2 linked regions of the Homo sapiens genome follow. The protein of the gene in region 2 purifies or fractionates together with the protein of the main gene of each other region. This does not show direct contact. Each region holds a gene or a part of one and is shown on either strand. Other genes may lie near its edges.

Region 1 (3,753 bases), on a different chromosome or scaffold from region 2:
TGTAATACCAGCAGTTTGGGAGGCCAAGGTGGGAGGATCGCTTGACCCTAGGAGTTTGAAACCAACCCTGGGCAATATAGTGAGACCTCATCTCTAGAAGAAAATTAAAAAAAAAAAAAAGAAGAAGAAAGAGAAAAGGAAGCACAGGAGCCCACTTTGCATTAGCGTTTGTGCAGCGATCCCTGTCAATTTCACAACATACATATAGAGCTTTAAACTGGGAGAGCAGGTGTCATGGGATCCTTCCTTGTACTACACCGAGGAGGAAGGCAGGGGAGCATTCTTAGCCCACTTTACAGATAAAGGAATGAGGCTGGGTGCAATTAAGTGACTCAGTGCAGATATTTGCACCCCAAACCCCAGTTCAAGATTCCCCAGACCCCAAGGGATTGGGGCTCCTGTGGGGTCAGGTTAATGGACTAACTGTCCAAGGCTGAGGACCAGATCAGCCAGGAGGAAGAGCTCTTGCTGGTTGAACCCAGAACTCCCCTGGGGACTGTCCGGACATGAACCAAGAGCTGGGGTTCCTGGGCCCAGACCTGAGGTGTCTGATTGCATTTATGGAACACAGATGAGAGGCTTGGAGTTCTGGCCGGGCACGGTGGCTCACGCCTGTAATCTCAGCAATTTGGGAGGCCGACGCAAGAGTTTCACTTGAGCCCAGGAGTTCGAGACCAGCCTGGGCAACATGGCGAAACCCTGTCTCTACAAAAAAATACAAAAATTAGCCAAGCATGGTAGTATGCACATGCAGTCTCCAGCTACTTGGGAGGCTGAGGTGGGGGAATCACTTGAACCCACAAGGCAGAGGCTGCAGTGAGCCAAGATCGTGCCACTGCACTCCAGCCTGGGCAACAGAGGGAGAACCTCTCTCAACAAAAAACAAAACGAAAACAAACGAGGCTTCAAGTTCTAAAAACTAAGTTCAGCAAAGCTCTGGAAAAGGTGGAGCACCCTGAGTGGGTCACTCAGCCCCTCCAACCCTCGACTTCTTCACTTGACACCTGGACATGACTGCACCCACCTCTCAGGGTTTCCCCAGGGTCTCAAGAGACCATGGGGGTGAAAGTGTATTGCTCAACGTAATCCTAGGTGCAGAGGAGGAGAAAAGGCGCGTGGGCGGCCCAAAGTTCCCAAAGCCTGCCTTCTGCCTCCTGTCTGAAGGAGCAGCCCTGAGCCTCTAAGCTCAGACTCATAGACAGGTCCCAGGAGACTGTGCTCCAAGAGACCCCTTGGGGCACAGAGCTGGAGCAGGCAGGACCTCCGAAGGCTCACTTCCTGCTGCCTAGAATGTGTGTCCCCCACTCCTTTCCTGCCAGCTCCTTTTCTTCCTTCGAGTTTCAGCTCCCATGTGTCCTCTTGGTCTTCAGAAAGTCTTCCCCATGCCCAGCTATTTTTTAATTTTTTTTATTTTTTGTAGAGATGGGGTCTCCCTATGTTGCCCAGGCTGACCTTGAACTGTTGAGCTCAAGCGATCCTCCCCTCCCGCCTCAGCCTTCCAAAATGCTGAGATTTCAGGTGGGAGCACCTAACCATTTCTTTTGTCTGTCCCCCTTCCCTAGAACATAAGCTCTAGGATGGCAGGGATTAGACTTGTCTCATGCTTTGCACGTTCCCCAAAGGCTAACACTGGGCCTGACACAGAAAAGGCTCAGTATGCGCTGAATGAATGTGTGAACGAATGACTGAATTAACGGAGATCTTGTCTGGTGAGGAGTCAAACATATAATCAATCACAATAGGATGTGTTAAATGCTGAGGTCCAGCTAAGCCCAAACTGCTATGGGAGCTTAGAAGGGCAGGTAAGTTCCCTCATCCTATGCCCTAGCCACCCCACTAAGGACCCAGGAGGAAAGAGGCACAGGATAGAGGCGAGTTACTCACCACACATCTCAGTGAGGGCCCCCAGGACCCCCAGAAGGAAGAGGAAGGCCCCAAGGTGCCTCATGGCAGCAGCAGGTGGGTGAGCAGTGAGCAAGAATCGGGAAAGACTCCTGGGGCTGGCCCTGCTGAGGCTCTCCTGACCACAGCTGGTCACCGCTCCGAGAGACGCAGCTTCCTGTCACTGATTAATCCTCCATGCCTGCAATGCACGGCTAAGTCTGCAGAGGGGTGGGGCGGGGGAAGGTCTGTGGTGGCGGGGAACATAAGGCCAAAGAACAGAGGAAGGAAGGGCAGAGCAGCCCTCCTGGAGGTAGGGAACAAAGGGAGGAGGAGGGCTAGTGGGACCATGTGAGACATCTTGAGGCCATTCACGTTCCTGCTTAAAGAGCCCGGGACCAGCGCAGAGGGCCTGATGCCTGATCTGTCAAGTCTGTCCGACCGTGCCTGTCTGCTGTCCCCCCAGCTGTTCCAGTGGTGGATTGGCAGGACCGGGTGCCTACCCGGTACTCCTTACCAAAGGAGCCCCTGGTAGTGCCCACCTAGCCCAGGACAAGGAGTGGAACGGGAGCTGCAGCTGCAGTGGTCACGTGAGCAGCATTGCTGGAGTCAGCTGTTTTTCAGCACCGCCTCCCTCAGTTGTGGCGGGAGGGGATTGTGGGGGTGGGGGAGTTGGGCAGTTGGGGAGGGGGAGTTGGGCAGTTCGGTGGGGGGGGGGAGTTGGGCAATTGAGGGGAGGGTGGGTGCCGCTGGCCCCAGACCAGCCAGGCCACTTTTCTCAACCAATCCGAAAGGGCTGGGAGCCTCCTGGAGAGGACAAAACAAAACAAGTTAAAGAATGGGATTAAGTCCGGGCACGGTGGCTCACACCTGTAATCCTAGCACTTTGAAAGGCTGAGGCGGGCAGATCACTTGAGCTCAGGAGTTGGAGACCAGCCTGGGCAACATGGGGAAACACTGTCTCTACAAAAACACAAAAAACACATACAAAAAACCATAAATTAGCCTGGCGTGGTGGCAGACGTCTGTAATCCCAGCTACTTGGGGGGCTGAGGCAGGAGGATCGCTTGAACCCAAGAGGTGGAGGCTACAGTGAGCCAAGATTACACCACTGCACTCCAGCTTGGGTGACAAAGTGAGACCCTGTCTCAAAAATAAAATAAAATAAAAAGAATGAGATTGAATCGAGACACAAAGCTACCAGAAGCAGGGGTACTTGCCAGAACTCGGAAAGTAACCTCAAAAAAAATCTCTGCAAACAGGGAAGAGAACAAAAGATTCCTCATCTGCCCAGCCCCACAGGAGAATCAATGTATACGAGTTAACTAGTGGTGGCTGTGTGACTTTGGCCAGGTCACTTAACCTCTCGAGTTTAAAATAGTTCTTCCTGTGTGAGAAGAGAGGGTTAGGCAAGATCATCCTAACAGTTCCCTTTCAGCTCAATTTGTGAAGACACTATGACCTTAAAATATCTCCAATCATTTCCATGCACAATCTGCATTGCAATTATTTTATGGTAAATTGCCAAGGTTCACTCTTTTAAGACAATCTTTTTGAGCCTGATTTATCACAAACCAAGCCCTTGACATAAATAAATACAGCAACGTGTGTCTGTTTACGGAACTACTTGAAAATTTTAAATGATAGGTTGTCCAGTCAGAAAGGCTGGATGTGGCCACTAGGAGGAGCACCCCTGGAGGTTCTGAGGAAGGAGGGAGGCCAGTGGGGAGCCCAACTTCCGCAGAACCGCACGTTTGGACCTTCAGGGGAGTCATGGTGAAGTGTGTGCAATGGAGCCACCTTGGTCCTGGGTGGGACTGCCTTGGCTCCCCCAACCCTCTGCCTGTTTCCAGTAACAACTATTATGATTCC
Region 2 (2,590 bases):
CTGTGGCAGAGATTTCAAAAATAGTTTGGTTAGTTGGTGCCTATTTGGTGGTCAAGACCCAAAAACATGAGGGCAGAACAATAATAATAATAATAATAATAATAATAATAATAATAATAATAGAGCATACCCTTTTCTTCCCAAATTCCTGACTCAGGGTTGACTTCATCTGCTGCTTCCCAAACTACCCTTGCTCTCCACTCCCTGGGAAGTGAAAGTGAGTTGATTCAGTTTATATCCCAATTGGCCTTTCCATGGGGTTAAATATGCAAAATAGCAAGTGATAGGCCCCACTACACAGATGGAAAGACTTAGCTTCATCAACAATAGAAAGCAATATACTCAGTATCAAGTGTACATAAGCAGAGCGAATATGAAGCCAACACTGTCCTTTAGAAACACTTATGGCTCACAGCTCATATATAAGTGAGTTCAGAAGAGAAACTGAATGGGAAAATGAGAAGTTTCACCTCCCCAGAAATATATTCTCTCAAGTATTTCTAGATAAATTTCCAGGTGAAAAATCAAATTTCTTTAAATTAAAAAAATTCAAAATGACAAATGGAAGTTTGTTGATGCCAATATATTTCTAAAGTCAAAATTACAGAAAGAAGCACTGCATGTCAAACATTATGAAAATACTATGTATGAGAGAATAAAGTATTTTGGAAAAACAAACGGATAATTCTTTAAATCCAGAACTACTTTTTATCTTCTGATATCATAGAAACAATGTCATTGTAAACTTCTTGAGGGGCATCCATTGCCCAGATAAAGTCCAAGTGATTGTAAAAAGGAATCTCCTTGTGGTAAATAAGATTGGGGAGTTTTGGAAGCAAAAGGCCAACATCTTGGGGGTCAGCCAACAGGTCCTTGCCACCGTTCCACACTGCAATTGGTACATTCATGGCTGTCACATTGTAGTAGGGAGGTTGGGACTAGAAAACACAAGAGAAAGAACCAGAGTTTAGGTAACCACACTTTAAACCCAGTACTTACTATTCAAGTAGAGTGTATAACATTAACTGGCGGTTTTATAAGTGAATTCTAGCAATGATTGCACAGAGAAAACCACCTTTATCCACAGAGCAAAGTGAATGCAATATGTTTTAGATAAGTGCTTGTCAAATTCTAATGGGCCTGTGAATTACCTGAAGATCTTGTTGAAGTAAAAATTCTGTTTCAGTAGATCTGGGGAACAGCCTGAGATTCTGCATTCATAGGTGATGCTGATGCCATTGGCTCCAAACCATGCTCTGAATAGCAAGGCTTTGGACAGTAAGTCTTACAAATTAAGAACATAGATTGCAACTCAAGCTAAGGGAAATGGATTTGATTAGATTCTAATTGTTAATAGGTTGTTTCTACCCAAACACTCTAAAATATGATCTCAAAATGTCCTGAGTCATTTATTTTGGCTTTGTATTGACTTCCCAGTTATGGTCAGGGGATAGGTCAGTTGTTTCAGTTATGGAGCTGTAATTGTTGAATACTTACCTGAGTATTTACAAAATGTTGCTTCAAATTCTGAGAAAGGGTATTATCATCCCCATGTCCTGTTTCTCGAAAATCACAATTCACACATAGATTTTAAAGAGGTTTACAAAGCAGAAAAAGGAATAAGAGAATTATCTCAAATTTTCTTGCTGCCCAGAGAGAATTTTGTTAGATTTTTTTAGATCATAGTTTCAAGAATAGTAATCCAATATACTAAAAGTTTCTGTATTCTCACATTTTGTGTAATAGCCAACTTGCCATAGCAAAATATTTTATGATATGTAATTTTCCCTAATATTTTCATGATTTCTATTATATTTCCTAAATATTAGAGAAAAGGGAGTGTGTGGAGAATATTCATAATTATAAACCCAGCTTATTTTACTTACATCCTATTATTCAAAGAGTTTTCTAGATGCTGGCCCTGGCTCTTAAATTAGTGTCATTGCTTCAGTTAGTTAAAGACCAACCTGGTATATTATTGGTTTAGTTGGAAGAAGGGTGGACTTGGGGACTGGGTTTCTTGTTCCTCTAAGATGAAGTCCTCTGATTATGAGTATTAGAGTCCAGTAGAAAGAGAGACTCAAAGCAAGCCTGTGTGTTTTGGAGATTTGAGAAAGTGATGGTGGAGGAAAAAATGTTTTCAACAAAAGTTTGATCTCATGCTATTCTGAAAACTTTAAAGATATCAAAAATGCAAAATCAAGGTTGGGGGGCACCTTCTCTACACATAAGACATTGTTGTTAAAACATATAAATTCCTTCTAAATTTTAAGTCATGGAAACAAATGAAAATTAGTAGAGTTGTTCAGCTACTACTTGGATGGAAAAATTGGATGTGGTGAAAAGGAAGAAGAGAAGGTTACAAAATACTATAGGGTGCTTCCCTTGTTCAAAAATAGTCAGTGATAACCCGAGAGCTTACCCTGAGCTAAGAGCTTATAGATATTATAGCACTAAATCCTGTCAACAACTTCCTGAGCCTGGGTGGAGAGATGAAGAAATGACTGCCCAAACTCATATTGACTGCAGATAAGATAAGCTCCAAAGTCTGGATTCTTATTACAGCAAGTGTGAGGACTGCTTAATATGT

What was found.
Region 1: the proteins of LIPF (region 2) and TCN2 purify together in Homo sapiens (affinity purification with mass spectrometry, with the first as the bait; one large-scale study listed by BioGRID). This does not show direct contact.

What each region holds. Positions count from the first base shown.
Region 1 is NC_000022.11:30,605,527-30,609,279, reverse strand, and holds the start of TCN2 (transcobalamin-2 isoform 1 precursor), read right to left. Parts: upstream 2,107-3,753; 5' UTR 1,949-2,106; coding exon 1,885-1,948; intron 1-1,884. UniProt on the Homo sapiens protein: Primary vitamin B12-binding and transport protein. Delivers cobalamin to cells.
Region 2 is NC_000010.11:88,676,793-88,679,382, reverse strand, and holds the end of LIPF (gastric triacylglycerol lipase isoform 2 precursor), read right to left. Parts: intron 939-2,590; coding exon 702-938; 3' UTR 569-701; downstream 1-568. UniProt on the Homo sapiens protein: Catalyzes the hydrolysis of triacylglycerols to yield free fatty acids, diacylglycerol, monoacylglycerol, and glycerol. Shows a preferential hydrolysis at the sn-3 position of triacylglycerol.